Linked DNA regions of Homo sapiens: region 2 is linked to region 1. A link means that fine-mapping ties the variant in region 1 to the expression of a gene that starts in the linked region. Tissue or cell type: whole blood. Region 1 holds a variant in brackets; the other region holds the start of a gene. All regions are shown on one strand. Distances are from middle to middle.

Evidence for each region. PIP is the estimated chance that this variant, and not a neighbour inherited with it, causes the effect.
Region 2: it holds the start of KAT6A, and the variant in region 1 is fine-mapped to the expression of KAT6A in whole blood (INTERVAL, PIP 0.98).

What each region holds. Positions count from the first base shown.
Region 1 is chr8:41,911,455-41,919,561 of GRCh38, reverse strand. No RefSeq gene overlaps it. Among named protein-coding and RNA genes, the nearest start is that of ANK1, 120 kb to the right of the region's middle. The variant C/G (reference allele first, on the strand shown) is at 3,482.
Region 2 is chr8:42,047,626-42,055,732 of GRCh38, reverse strand. It overlaps KAT6A (lysine acetyltransferase 6A), which reads left to right and starts at 3,746. Exons shown (of 17, transcript NM_006766.5): 1 at 3,746-3,832; 2 at 6,431-7,355. The coding sequence starts at 6,756. It overlaps KAT6A-AS1 (KAT6A antisense RNA 1), which reads right to left and starts at 3,983. Exons shown (of 2, transcript NR_136589.1): 1 at 3,748-3,983. RefSeq lists silencers at 848-1,142, 3,103-3,262, 3,453-4,082, 4,183-4,652 and enhancers at 2,612-3,132, 3,133-3,654.

The DNA of each region.
Region 1 (8,107 bases):
GTGCTTGAACCTGGGAGGCGGAGGTTGCAGTGAGCCGAGATCGCGCCACTGCACTCCAGCCTGGCGACAGAGCAAGACTCCATCTCAAAAAAAAAAAAAAAAAAAAGAAATTAGAAAATATTTTGAGCTGAATTATTTGCAACCCGTATGAAATAATGGATCTAGGCAAAGATTATCAAATGCCACTAGCATCTCAAAAAGAAACACCTGGGATATTGTGTGCCTTTTCATACCACCTATGAAAATACCCTTGTCAGAAAACCATGCTGGTTCTAAATGTGCTTCAATTTATCAGTTTACAGAAAACACAAGGGACAGAGGCACATGGTAAACACCACCACAGGGATGGAAGCAACCACATCTAGACCATGAGAAACTTCACAGGATAAATGACAGATCAATTACAAGGAATAATAGGAGAGGAGGGCATGGAGGGTGAAGATTAAGAGATTTAAGAAATATGTGAATGAAATGCATCCTGATTCTGAGAAATTACAACTTTTATGAGGTAGCAGTTTGAACACTGAAGATTTGATGATGTTGAGGATTTTCAACTTTAAGGTGTGAAATAGTGATATTGTCTTTATTTTTTGAAAGGTCATTTTATTTACAGTTAAATCCTGAAATAAGGCTGGGCGCGCTGGCTCATGCCTGTAATCCCAGCACTTTGGGAGGCCGAGGCGGGTGGGCCACGAGGTCAGGAGATTGAGACCATTCTGGCTAACACAGTGAAACCCTGTCTCTACTAAAAATACAAAAAATTAGCGGGTGTGGTGGCACATGCCTGTAGCCCCAGCTACTTGGGAGGCTGAGGCAGCAGAATTGCTTGAACCTGGGAGGTGGAGGTTGCAGTCAGCCGAGATCACACCACTGCACTCCAGCCTGGGTGACACAGCGAGACTCCATCTCAAAACAGACAAACAAAAAAAAGCTGAAATAAGTATTGATGCAAGGATATTGTGTCTGGAATTTGCTTCAAAATAATCCAGCATTGGTCTAAAGGAAATAATATTAACAATGAGCTGATAAATGTTGAAATTGGCTAGTGAGTACATGGGGTTTCATGATACTATTCTCTCTACTTTTGAAGATATTGAAAGGCTAAAGAAGTATTTAGAGGGAAATTTATGGCCTTAATGAAAAATGTATATAGTCAAAAAAAAGAAAAAAAGAGCCAAAGATGAATGGCCACTATGCACCCACTAGATTAACATTGAAAGGATTGAAAATATAAAGTATTGGCTGGGCGTGGCGGCTCACACCTACAATCCCAGAACTTTGGGAGGTGGAGGCAGGTGGATCACTTGAGGTCAGGAGTTTGAGACAAGCCTGACCAACATGGTGAAACCTCATCTCTATTAAAAATACAAAAATTAGCCAGGCGTGGTGGCGCACGCCTGTAATCCCAGCTACTTGGGAGGCTGAGGTGGGAGAATCACCTGAACCCGGGAGGTGGACGTTGCAGTGAGCTGAGATGGCACTACTGCATTCCAGCCTAAGCAACAGAGAGAAACTCCATCTCAAAAAAAAAAAAAAAAAAAGAAAAAGGAAAAGAAAAGAAATATAAAGTATTAATAAGAACATGAAGCAACTTATAAACTACTATGGGAGTATAAATTAGTTTAACTACTTTTGAAAGCTTCTTGGCGTTATCTGGTACAGTTGAAGTTATGCATGTTCCGTCCCTCAGCAATTCCACAGTAAGTTACAAACTTAGAGAAATACAAGTCCATGTGTCTCAGGGTACATGTACAAGAATGTTCATAACAGCATACATAATTTGCAGCGGCCCAAAACAGTCCACATACCGTCACAATAGAATGGTTATTTGCAGTATGTACATGCCGAATTCTACACGCCAATGAAATTTAAAGAACTACAGTTACATGCAATGAATGAATCTGAAGTATAATGTGCAAAAGAAGCCAAAAAAAGAATACCTAGGACACCGAAAAACACAATCCATTAAAGAAAAAAAATGATAAATTGAATTCCATTAAAAAAAAAACTGCTCTTTGAAAGACACCACTAAAAAATGAAAAGTTTGGCCACAGGGTGGGAGATATACATATTTACAATATGTATATCTGACAAAGGACTGGTGTCCAGATACGTAAGGAACTCTTTCAACTTGATAGTATAAACAATCTAATTTTTAAAAATGGTTAGGAGATTTGAACAGACACTTTACCAAAGAAGATATACGGATGACCACTAATACGTGAAAAGATGTTTAGTATCATTAGTAAGGAAATACAAATTACAACTGCAGTGAGATACTGTTTCCCACAATTAGAATGGAAAAGACTAAAAAGTGGCCATATTAAGTGTTGATCAGGACATGGAGAAATGTGTACTCTCATGTATCGCTGATGGCAGTGTAAGAGAGTAAACCACATTGAAAAGCAGTGCTCTGGCCATTTCTTAAAAAGTTAAACATACACTTCCCACATCCATCCCAGCAGGTCCACTCCTGGGTATTTACCCAAGAGAAACAGAAGCATATGTTCCCCCAAAGACTTCTGCACAAATGTCTGTAGCAGCTTGAGTCACAAATGACCAACACTGGAAAGAACCCAGATGTCCATTAGCTGTTGAGTGGACACACATGGTATAGCCATACAATGGAACAGTAACTGTCCAATAAAGGACATACACAACAATATGAGTGAATCCCAAAACCCTTTGCTGAACAAAAGAAGCCAGATTTGAAAGAGTGCTTTCTATATCATTCCACTTATATAAAGCTTTAGAAAAGGCAAAACTGCTGGGCGTGCCTGTACTCCCAGCAACTTGGGAGGCTGAGGCACAAGAATCACTTGAACACGGGAGGTGGAGGTTGCAGTGAGCTAAGATCATTGCCACTGCACTCCAGCCTGGGGGACAAAGTGAGACTCTGTCTAAAAAAAAACAAAAAACAAAAAACAACGCAAAACTGACCTACGGTGACGGAGAGCAGAAGGGGTTGCTGGGGATTGGGGGAGAGATTAACTGCAAAGGGCACAGGAAATTTCCGGGGCAATGGAAACATTCTGTATCTAGTTGACACCTAGCAAACTGCACATGAAAATGGATACATTTTACTGCATATAAATTATACCTAATCAAATTTAATTTTTTAAAAAACAAGTGATATTCATACACCCCAATAGCATTATTCATAATACCCCAAAGATGGAAACAACCCAAGTGTTCATGAACAGATGAATGGATGAACAGATGTGGTCTATTCACACCACGGGATATGACTCACCCTTTAAGAGGAGGGGGATGCTGCACACCCTGCACCGTGGATGCACCTTGAGGGCACAAGGAATGAAAGGGCCAGTTACAAAGGGACAGATCCCATGTAGATGAGGCACCTCCTGAGCCCTGCCTGGTGGTCACACCATCTGTCTGCAGGCCCCTGGATGGCCCACTAAACACCTGTGCCAGCTGCTGAGTGTCAGGTGGCTCCTATGCAGTTTCACAGTGGCAGTCA[C/G]TAAGTCATTGGAAACGCCTTGGCAGGGGGAGGGGATGTGTTGGGGGATTTTGAGTGGAGGAGTGTTATCGTCTGTCCTACATCTGAAGAGGGTCACTCGTGCTGTGGTGTGGAGGGCCAGGGTGGAAACGCGGGAGCAGCAAAGAGGCTACTGCGGTGACCTGGGTGAGACTTGATGGTGGCTGGGACGGGGAAGCCATGACGGAGGTGAAAGGAAGGTCAGGGCTCTGGTTATATTTTGAGTATAATACCAGCGCAATACCAAATTAAAGAGTTTGCATTCGGGTGGGTGGGTGTGGCAGAGATGGCAACTGAAGGGGAATTGCAGGTTTGGGGGGAAGATGGGGTCAAGATCTGAGACGGCCTTTGAAGCAGTGGTGAGGGTGGAGTGGAGTGAGGTGGGGCAGGAGTCTGAGACCGATACCTGGAAGAAAGCCTGGCGGTGGCCAGCAGACTAGGCCTGTTTGGGCTGAGTGACCCGGGAGAGGCACATAAAAGGGTGAGTGCATGAAGCCATGGGCTACCACCAACACCTTAGCATAAACTCGGCACTGGATCAGTCATGTGAACTTGAGGGAAATAGGCAAAGTAGATGCATTTTAATGGGTGCAGATAAGGGAGAAAGGTCTTACCTTGGGGCTCTGGGTGATAAATAGGATTATGGGGGGAGGGTGGAGGCTGAGGGGCATGGACAGCAGGAGAGACCTGGATATCTCCAAGTCAGGGAAAGGGGACAAGATGGAAGGGAAGGAAAATCTCCTACAAGCCTACACTAACAAGAGAGTGTGGTCCCAGCATAAAGACAGACATATAGACTGATGGAACAGAAGAAAGAGATCAGAAATAAACCCTCATGTGAAGACGGGCAACTGATTCTCAACAAGGATGCCAAGGTCATTCAGCAGGGAAAGGACAGTCTTTTCAACAAATAATGCTGAGAAAACTGGATATCCACATGCAGAATGAAGCCACATCTTGTTTCACACCACACACACACACACACACACGCACACGCGAAACTCAAAATGGATCACAAAACAAAATGTGAAAGCGAACTCTACAAAGCCCTTATTGGGGAAAAGTTTCATGACACTGAATTTGGCAGTGATTTCCCAGACATGACACCAAAAGCTCACACAACAAAAGAGAAAATAGACAAATTGAACTTCATCAAGATTAAAAACGTTTTGTGCATCAAAGGACACTATCAACAGAGAGAGAAGGAGACTCACACAATGGAAGAAAACATTTGCAAGTTTCATTTTGGAGAAATGATTAATATCTAGAATATACAAAGAATCTTACAACTCAATGACAAAAAACCAAACAACTCAATTAGAAATCGGGTGTGGCCAGGCGTGGTGGTTCATGCCTATAATCCCAGCACTTTGGGAGGCTGAGGTGGGTGGATCACTCGAGCCCAGGAGTTTGAGACCAGTCCGGGCAACATGGTGAAACCCTGTCTCTACAAAAAATACAAAAATTATCCAGCGGTGGTGGCGTGTGCCTATAGTCCCCGCTACTTGGGGGGCTGAGGGGGGAGGATTGCTTGAACCTGGGAGGCAGAGGTTGCAGTGAGCCTCAGTCATGCCACTGCACTCCAGCCTGGGTGACAGAGCTAGACCCTATCTCAAAAAAAAAAAAAAAAAAAAAAAGGGAAGAGAGAGAGAAATTGGATGAAGGACTTGAATAGATATTTCCCCAAATAGGATATACAAAAAACCAATAAAGACATGAAAAAAATGCTCAATATCGCTAATCTTTAGGGAAATATGAACCAAAAGCACATTGAGGTATGACCTCATACCCATTAGGCTTACTATTATCAAAAAACAGAAAACAGTAAGTATTGGCGAGGATGTAGTGTAACTGGAGCCCTTGTGCTCTGTTGGTAGGAATGCAAAATTGAATGACTGCTGTGGAAAGCAGTGGGGCAGTTTCTCAAAAAATTAAACAGAATTACCATATGATCCAACAATTCCACTTCTGGGCATATATCCAAAAGGAATGAAAGCAGGGGCTCACACAGACATTTGTCCACCCATGTTCCTAGCAGGCTACTTCACAATGGCCAAAGGCGAAATCAACACAAGTATCCACAGACAGAGGAACAGACCACAGAATATGGTCAATCCACACAATGGAATATTATTCAGCCTTAAAAAGGAAGGGTATTCTGACACATGCTGCAACAGAGATGCACCTTGGAGACATTATGCTAAGTGAAAGAAGCCAGTCACAAAAAGACAAATGTTGCACGATTCCACTTATAAGAGGTACCTGGAATAGGCAAATTCAAGAGACAGAAAGTTTGGCGCAAAAGTAATTGTGGTTTTTACATTGTTGAAATTTGCCATTTGACATTGGAATACATTCTTAAATCAATGTGGTTATGTTACACATCATTTTAATGTGCGTTTCTTACTTTTTTTTGCTAATGACATTACTGCTGTTTATTCTATATTTATTTTAGACTATGGAAATGATGTTAGACAAAAAGCAAATTTGAGTGATTTTCTTATTCAAGTTCAAAATGGGTCATAAAGCAGCAGAGACAACTCTCAACATCAACAATGCATTTGTCCCAGGAACTGCTAACAAACGTACAGTGCAATGGTGGTTCAGGAAGTTTTACAAAGGAGACGAGAGCCCTGAAGATGAGGAGTGTAGTGGCCGGCCATCGAAAGATGACAACGACCAACTGAGAGCCATCATCTAAGCTGATCCTCTTACAACCACAGGAGAGGTTGCCAAAGAACTCAACATCGACGATTCTATGGTCCTTTGGCATTTGAAGCAAATTGGAAAGGTAAAAAAGCTCGGTAAGTGGGTGCCTCATGAGCTGAGCAAAATTAAAAAAAAAACAAATTTGTCATTTTGAAGTGTCGTCTTCTCATATTCTACTCAACAACAAGGAACCATTTCGAGATTGAATTGTGACATGCCATGAAAAGTGGATTTTATACAACTGGTGATGACCAGCTAAGTGGTTGGACAAAGAAGAAGCTCCAAAGCACTTCCCAAAGCCAAACTTGCACCAAAAAAGGGTCCTGGCCACTGTTTGGCGGTCAGCTGCTGGTCTGATCCACTGCAGCTTTCTGAATCCCGGCAAAACCATTACACCTGAGAAGTATGCTTGGCAAATCTATGAGATGCACCGAAAATTGCAACGCCTGCAGCCAGCAGTGGTCCACAGAAAGGGCTCGATTCTTCTCTGACAATGCCCAACCGACTGCACATCACACAACCAATGCTTCCGAAGTAAACGAATTGGGCTGCGAAGTTTTGCCTCATCTACCACATTCACCTGACCTCTCGCCAACCAACTACCACTACTTCAAGCATCTCAACAACTTTTTGCAGGGAAAATGCTTCCACAACCAGCAGGAGGCAGAAAATGCTTTCCAAGAGTTTGTCGAATCCCAAAGCATGGATTTTTACGCTACAGGAGTAAACAAACTTATTTCTCATTGGCAAAAATGTGTTGATTGTAATGGTTCCTATTTTGATTAATAATGTGTTTGAGCCTAGTTATAATGATTTAAAATTCATGGTCCTAAACCTCAATTACTTTTGCACCAACTTAGGCACCCCTGGAGAGTGGTTACCAGGGGCTGCAGGGAGGGCGGAATGGGGAGTTACTATTTTTTTTTTTTGTTTGGAGTGCAGTGGCGCGATCTCGGCTCACCACAACCTCCACCTCCCGGGTTCAAGCGATTCTCCTGTCTCAGCCTTCTGAGTAGCTGGGACTACAGGTACATGCCACCACGCTGGGCTAATTTTTGTATTTTTAGTAGAGACGGGGTTTCACTATGTTGGCCAGGCTGGTCTCAAACTCCTGACCTCATGATCCTCCCACCTCGGCCTCCCAAAGTGCTGGGATTACAGGCATGAGCCACCGCGCCAGGCTGGGAGTTACCATTAACAGGAACAGAGCTGCAGTTTGGCAAGAGGAGAAGGTTCTGGAGGTGGATGGTTTTGATAGTTGCACAACAATGTGAATGTAGTTAATGCCCCTGAACTGTGCATCTAAAAATAGTGAAAACGGTAAATATTTGTGTTATATATAGGTTGCTATATATATTTTTTTTAAGTGAAGAAGGAGAGCCAACAAAGGAGTGCCAGGAACCAGTTTATTCATAATCATTTCTAAGAGACAGCCCTCATCGTGGGGCTGGGGGTCTAAAGGGTTCGTGGCTAGCAGGAAGGTGGGTTGGGCCCCCTGAGAGCAGGGTCAAGTGAGGGATCAGGGGAGCTTGAGAGCTCACAGCGCCTGCAGGAAGGATAAATAAGGAGCAGTGGAAAGGAAACTAGGCTCTCACTGGCAGGAGTCCTCCTCGGTGGTTCTGCCAGGAGGTAACCAAGACTCTCCAGGAGAGAGATGTCAGAGCACACAGAGCAGCCAAAGAAGAGCCTTAACATTCTGTTGTTGGGCTGGGTGCGGTGGCTCATGCCTGTAATCCCAGCACTTTGGGAGGCCAAGGTGGGTGGATCGCCTGAAGTCAGGCGTTCAAGACCAACCTGGCTAACATGGTGAAACCCCGTCTCTACTAAAAGTACAAAAATTAGCTGGGCATGGTGGCAGGCACCTGTAATCCCAGCTACCTGGCAGGCTGAGGTAGGAGA
Region 2 (8,107 bases), 140 kb before region 1:
CCCAAGTAGGATAAATACAAAGAAAACCACATCTACACACGTCATAGTAAAGCTGTTGACAACCAAAGACAAGAAAAAATCCTAAAAGGAGTCAAAGGAAAAAAGACATTACTTTCAAAGGAATAAAAGGGAGTGACAGAAACCAGAAGACAATGGAAGAACATCTTCAAAGTGCTGGGAAAAAAAAACCAAAAAACAAAAAAAACTTGCCAAATCAGAATGCTATACCCAGCAAAAATATGAAGGATAATGCAAAGTTTTAGGCAATAAAACCCCACAAAAAACAAAAAGCAAAAACTCAAACAACCTTGGAGAGAACTTGTCATCAGCAGACCTGCTGTAAAACAGGGGAATTATTCAAATAGAAGGAAAACCTTCAGACAGAAGCACAGAAATGCATATTGGAATGAAGAGCAATATAAGGATAAATATGGAGGTTAATCTAAATGAGTACTTATTGTACAGAACAATAAGTATAAATTCTTGTGTGGCTTAAAATACACACACAATTAAAATCCTTGACGACAATAAACACAAAAGGGAGATGGGTAGGTGGAGATACAGTATTTTAATGTCTTAGCATTCCCGGGGAAGTGGTAAAAGTAATTATTTTGTATAAGATCATAAGTCAAAAAGCAATGTTGTAATCTCTAAAACTAGTAATGTATAATTTAAAAATTAATAGAGGGGGTTAATGATATAGTTAAAATATTTTAATTAATTCAAAAGAAGGCAAAAAGCAGAGAACAAGGAATGTGAAATAGGTGATCCAAAATAAATGGTAAGATGGTAGGCATACATCCACATATACCAGTAATTATATTAAATGTAAATGGACTAAAAATGTTTCCTGTTGAAACCAGGACAGAGCAAACTTCCAATTTCAGGCTGGCATGGACTCTGTATAAGACACAAGTACCAAGTACAAGTGAAAAGGCAGGGATTCCTAGAGCAAAATATGCAAGGGGGAAATAACCTTTAGTTGCCAGCTCCACAGGGCTGAATCGTGAGTAAAGTTTGAGCTAAGAAAAACTATCCTTTCAGAGTGCAGATTGCTTTTTAACTTGCAAATGATGAGGACTTTAATCCGTCTTTGTTGCAAGATTTTTATTTTGAGAAGACCTCCTGAATGTGCCATTTAGTTATGCAAATGTAAAGCAGAGACTCTTTATGGAAGCTGTGTGAAAAGCTCAACTGTGCTTTGTTGTTATAAATTGTTTTAAATTCTTGCTACTGTTTAATCCCCAGTTTGGTCTTTTCACAGGATGGCTGTGGCTAGTTTTCTTCCAAATTATCCAAAAGTAAACACAACTCATCTCTGTATTATTTTTCTTCTGAAGGCCACACACTCTAGTCTCACATGAAGAACTCATTGTCTTTGCATTAATATGACTTTATCTGCCCTCTTTGGGAAATAAAAATCTGCCTATTCTACTAAAAGAAAATACATATATATATATATATATATATTTTTTTTTTTTTTTTTTTTTTTTTTTTTCCTGGAGGTGATTTCATTACAAACAGGGACCATTTTACCTGAGAATGTGTCTATCTGATTCATCTAGGATGAAAGAGATCCTTTCTATTGGATTATCATGTATTCCAAATTTCTCTACTGCTTTGGAGATGGGGCTTGGAAGTAGGCGATGAATGGCAACTCAGTCAACCTCACTACATTACACTTCTGTTTCTGTCAGTGTCAGGATATTGATTAGGCTGGACCATGATCTGAAAAGTTACGTTATTCTTACTGAATGGTCCAGAGTCTACCGTATGGAGGGTAGGGCTATGGATTAGAGTGGAGACGGGATAGATAGAAAAGTTTGGGTTCCCTCTTGCTGTGTCTCTCAGGCTGGAGTGTAGTGGCGATCATAGTTCACTGCAGCCTGGAACTCCCGGGCTCAAGCAGGCCTCCCGAGTAGCTGGGCTACAGCAGCGCCCCGCCACAAACGGCTTTCTTAACGGCTTAAAAAATTGTTCATTCACGAGCAACATTTTTTTATTTTAAACCGCCTACTACAGTACTTGTACAACATTATTCTAGGTGCTGGAGATGCAGAGTCATTATAGGAGAGCATTTACCAGTGAATGTATTCGGAATATATATATATATATATATATATCACATGTAAGTGCAAAATGACTAGAGCAAATGATACTACTACAGAAGTTCAGAAAAGGAAGTCAGCATGGAAGTTAAGGCAGTGGGTGAGAGGGAGGCCCTTAAAAGCTAAAGCTGAGATAAAATGAGGTATTGCGGGCGACAGTCTAGGCGGGGTGTGTCGTATGGGGTTGGGGACAGGGCAGATAAAGGTCAGGCAGCAGGATACACGTCCATGTCAACGATTAAACATTTAGTGTCTTTTTCATGTCTACTGTCTTTCTAGTGAATGCAGAAAAAAAAAAAATGCATGACTTGGCCAGGTGCAGTGTCTCAGGCCTGTAATCCCAGCACTTTGGGAGGCCGAAGAGGGCGGATCACTTGAAGTCAGGAGTTCGAGACCAGCGGCCTGGCCAACATAGTGACACCCCGTCTCTACTAAAAATACAAAAATAAGCCAGGCGTGGTGGCGGGCGCCTGCAGTCCCAGCTACTCAGGAGGATGAGGTAGGAGAATCGCTTGAACCCAGGAGACGGAGGTTGCAGTGAGCCAAGATCGCACCACTTGCACTCCAGCCTGGGCAACAGAGCGACACTGTCTCAAAAAAAAAAAAAAAAGTATGACTCAGTCTCTGCATCAAAGAGTTTAAAGTAGATGAAAGGCAAGACAAAGAAACGTCCATACAGCCAGTAGTGGACAGGCAGGCCATGAAGAACCGCCTGCTCGTGGTTCCAACGCCCTAAGTATGGACAAGAGTTCCGCACAGGGCAAGAAGGGAAGACCGGCTTTGGAATAAGACAAATCTCAGTCCCAGGCTCAGGTGCGCGCCACATACTAGCTGTGTGACCTTGTCCAAGTCACACGACCCAGGTCTGTGGAGTCTCCCATAAAATGGCTCTAGTGAGCTCCAAGAACCCTCTCAGCTGCTGGGGGAGGGAAGAAATGAAGTCACTGCTGAAAGGGGTTAAGACGGGTGCTTCTGGTTCCACCCTCTCCCCAACTCTTCCCACCGACACAGGAGAGCCGTCGGGGGCTGAGGCGAGCTGCCAGGGGTGAGGACGGGAAGCCGCCTCCTCTCCGCCCCCCAGGCCCCGCCCTCGGGCTCCGGAAAGTCGCTGTGCAGGCAAATGAGTGGGGAGGGAGGGCTCACTAACTGTAAACAGACGCCGCCGAGAGTTCCCATCCTGCGTGGCTGCCGGATTTCCGTGCCACACTGAAGCCACCCCACCCAGACTCCTGCCCTCAGTTTCCCCAGCGGTGGCATGGGGTGCACCAGCTCCTCCTCTCCCGGGTCGCCGTCTGACTTAAACGCGTGAGACGGGAGAGGAGGAACCCCCGCTCCCCAGCCTCCAGCCCCACCAAGTCCTCCTCCTCCCCTGGCTTTGGCCTTTTGTACCGGCCCCACGTGACCCCGCCGGCCGGCTCTTCCCTGCTGCCCCGCCCCGCCCTCCGGCCTTTCCCGGCTCTCGGCCCAGCTCTTCCCGCTCTCGGCCGCCCCCCACCCGCGCTGCCGGGCCTCCGCCTCCCCTCGCCGCCCGCCCAGGCTCTTCCAGCTCCCTCCCCCAGGCCGCCGTTCCCTCGCGACGCTCCCCTCCCCCCGCGGCTGTTCCGCCGCCTTGCCTCCCCTCCCCCCGGCTGGAGCTCACTGTCTCCAAGATGGCGGCCGTGTCAGTTTGGGGCATCTCCGCGGTCCGGCCCGGGGCCCCGGGATCTCGGCTGTCCTTCCTCCCGGTAAGTAGCCGAGGGGCCGTTCCCGGCCGCCCCCGGCCGCCCAGCCCGAGGCCGAGCCGCTCCAGGGCCCACTCCGCTGCCTCGCGGGGTCGGCGGGCCGCTGCAGGCCCCGCCGCGGCCTGCGCCGCCTCCCGCTGCTCTGCGCCAGGCCTCGGGCTGGGGCGCCGTGGCCGCCCCCTCGCGCCCGCCCGCTCGCTCGCTCGCTTGCTCGCTTGTTCGGCGCCCGGCTGCCCCGGCCCGCGGCCCGCGCGCCGCCGCCCGGCCCCGCGCTCGCGGGCCCCGCGCCCCCGATCCCGCCGGCCGGGCCCGCCCTGGGGGAGCCGGCGGGTGGGCGGGCGGCGAGCGGCCCAGGCCGCGGAGCCTCGGGCTGGCGGAGCCGGCGAGCCCGCTCTCCCTCGGGGCGCGCCCACCCGCCCGCCGCGCGCGTGCCGGCTGTGCCGGGCCGGGCCGCTTCTCCCCGCGCTCGCGGGCGCTCGGGTTCGGGCTCGGGCTCGGGTTCCGGCTCCGGCTTTGGCTCCGGCCGGGGGCGCGGGGATCCGAGCGGGGCTGAGGCGGCGAGCGGGGCTGACAGGCCGGCGGGTGTTGTGGTGCGAGGCGCAGCACGTGTGGTGTTGTGTCTGCCGGGCTGTCAGCCCAGCCGCCGAGGGGAGGCCGGGCGCCTGTCAACCTCGCGGCTTGGCCCGGTGCGCGACTGTCAGGCTCCCAGCAACCCGCGCCGCCCTCGAGCCGGCCCCCAGAGCTTAGGGTGCGGAGCTGGGCCGGGGCTATGCACCGCTCTGAACTCCTTCACGTGATTTCATTGTTAACTTGTGCTCGGGGTCTGTTTCCATCGCGTGGAAACGGTGCAGCGCCCCGTCGGCGAGCTGCCGGGCTGTGCAGATCCAAGTTTTTAAAGTTTCTCGCTCTTTGAAAAGAGAGCGCGAAGACGTGTTTAGGGGTGGGGAATGGGGACGGGAAGGACTGTCGGAAGCGAGTTGCGCTCGCTCTAGCCGCTCGTGTACTTTCCGGGAGTTAAGATCCGAGGCTGCAGGCGCTTGACTTTCCGAAGACCTGGAGACTGATGACAATCCCGACTGGAAAGACAATGAGTGACTGTCACTCATTCTTTTACCTGCGAAGCTTAGTCAATTAGGACGTTCGTTCCCAGCTTGTTAAACTCAGGATGTAGCTTCTCATTTAGTTTAGACTTAATATCTGTATAATGAGCTTACTTGGAGTAATGATACTCTGATTTCTATCCTCTTGAGACCCTCACCAAATTGAAGCATGATTCTCCCAGGGGGCTTCTTTTTAGGCAGCTGATTTAAAAACAAATCTTGGCTCAGGTTTGAATGTTTGCTTCACTCTTTTCTTTCCTATCAGAGTTAATAGTAATATCTCTTTCCTAGTGTGTATTAGTTTTCCGTTTGATTTTAATGTCACTACCAAGAATAGTTGCTGTGGGAGCCATTTGTCTAGCATTGTTTATATTGTAATGCAAATGATCTCCAGAATGAGAGCAGAAGTTCTAAAAAACACTTCAGTTAAACTTATTTTTGGAGGCAAAAGAGTTAGATTCAGAATTCAGTACTTTAGTGATTAAACAAGATTGCATCTACCAGATTCTTTTATAGGGATACTGACTTTGATTCAGAGAGACAGTACATTTCTGTTTATGTTTTATTAATGTTCGTTTCAGGACAGCAATCTTGAATTTATATCTTTATTATTTGGGCTTCTCTTTAGTCCTACAAGTAGCCAGTGTATTTCTTTTTCTGTACCGTCCGTTTGATATGTAGTATGTGCGTTGACCCCAGTGATTCTGGGCCTTCCTCATTTCTAGTTTTCCTGTCTGAATTACTTACACGCAGTTTGACAGTTGTGACTCTCTTCAGCATATGAATAGAAACATCTTAGTTTGGGTTAGGAGAAGCTATCAGCATGTAATTCTTAAAATTTGAATGAAAGTGGATTATTGTTAAATTCAGTAAGCACTTTTACTCTAGGCTATTTTCAATAGTATTTTTGTTTCCATTAGGAGAGATTAAGGTAATACTGTACTTAAATTATAAACTGGGTGTGCATATTGTATTCATTCTTTTCATGTAAGAACTAAAATTTTCTCAGTCGTTTTCTGCCTTATTGACTGTTTTTGTCTACTCTGAATGTCTAGAATTTTGAAAGATGAAAGATTCACTTTTACTTTCATTGCAGGATTCTTTCTACTAATCCAGATACTTGTTGAAGTGCTGACTAGTTTCTTGGGGAAAGATGTCAAGGAAGAGTTGAAATTCCTAGACTGGTGAGCAGAGATTGCGGAGTACAGAATAGCCATCACCCACTCTGGTTAGTGGTAGCTTAAAGGTCATTCTTAGAACATGTCATCGTGTTTCCTCATTGTATCCTAATTACTCATCTTTTTTTTTTCTTTTCTTTTTTTTTCTTTTTTATCCCAATGGTTTACATACATGATTGTTTTGGAATATTAATAGATAAGTTTGGAAATTCTTAAGGGTGCCTAGTAAACACTTGCTGTTTGATTGCTTTATGATGAGGATGCTTATTTTCATTCGAAATAGGTCTTGGTAGAAAACTGACCTTATTTTCATTGCTTTTCAGGCATAAGATGCACATTTTTCTGCTCTGGAGCCGGGAATGAAATATTCTTGAGTTCTTACAACTTTATGACGAGACCCATGTGTGGTGCTATTGAGAAATTCATTGGGAAGTTGGAAGACATTTCAATCAACAGGTTGTTTTGGTTTCTATAGTACAATTGGGGTGGCATTCTGTTTTGTGAAAGGAGGAAGGACTTAGGCCAGAAAACTCATATGCTATGGTTAACTGGTTCCCAGCCTCCGAGAATCTTGTTTTCCATGGTGTAAAACTTACTCAGCATCAGGATAAGGGATAACGACTCTATGGATATACAGAATCCTTCACCATGGTAAAACTCGCAAACCCGCTTTATACTGAGTGGATTTTGGAGGCCATCAAAAAAGTGAAAAAGCAGAAACAGCGTCCTTCAGAAGAAAGGATATGCAATGCTGTGTCTTCATCCCATGGCTTGGATCGTAAAACTGTTTTAGAACAATTGGAGTTGAGTGTTAAAGATGGAACAATTTTAAAAGTCTCAAATAAAGGACTCAATTCCTATAAAGATCCTGATAATCCTGGGCGAATAGCACTTCCTAAGCCTCGGAACCATGGAAAATTGGATAATAAACAAAATGTGGATTGGAATAAACTGATAAAGCGGGCAGTTGAGGGCTTGGCAGAGTCTGGTGGCTCAACTTTGAAAAGCATTGAACGTTTTTTGAAAGGTCAGAAGGATGTGTCTGCATTATTCGGAGGCAGTGCTGCCTCTGGCTTTCACCAGCAGTTACGATTGGCTATCAAACGTGCCATTGGCCACGGCAGACTCCTTAAAGATGGACCTCTTTATCGGCTCAACACTAAAGCAACCAACGTGGATGGGAAAGAGAGTTGTGAGTCTCTTTCCTGTTTACCTCCAGTGTCCCTTCTTCCACATGAAAAGGATAAGGTAAGAATGGCATATGCTTCGGGGTTTATAGAGCTGATGATATAGGATGCTACAAATTCACATTTCTGGGAAGTTATATTCAAGTTTTTTGTTTGGGGACTTCTGTGGAGTGATCACCTCTGGTTTTTTATTGGTGAGTTGTAGCTATGAGAGCTTCATAGATTTGTTCTGGTACTTTGAAATATTTGAAGCCTAAGATTAAAAATGTAGAATGTTAATCTGACTAAAAGAACTTATTTACATTACAATGAAAAAGTGACATATGAGTTTAAAACTTTTTTTTAAATTTTTTTTTATTATTTTGCTTGAGGAGTACTCCAGCGTGAGACTTTAAAACTTTAACTAAAGGTTCTTAGAACACCTTACTACTGGAAGTTGATGAGCAGCCAAATCATGGAGACTTGAATTTGAAACAAGCAGATGACTCTGAGAACATTTTTCTGTTTTCCATTTTGTTGCAGATTACTCGTTAGACAGAAATGAGACAGATTCTCATGACCCATAGGCGCAACTAAGCAAACTTAGCAATTCTTGTTTCTGCTGTTTGTATTATAGCTTTCTGTCATGTATTATGGCTTTGCATATGATGAAGTCCTAAATGCTATTTATGACAGCTGTAGTTGCATGGGACAGGAATACAGTATCCTAAACTAGAAAAGTTCTGGAGGGTCTGGAACAGTAGTTCATGCCTGTAATCCCAGCGCTTTGGGAGGCTGGGACAGGAGGATGTCTTGAGCCTAGGAGTTTGAGCC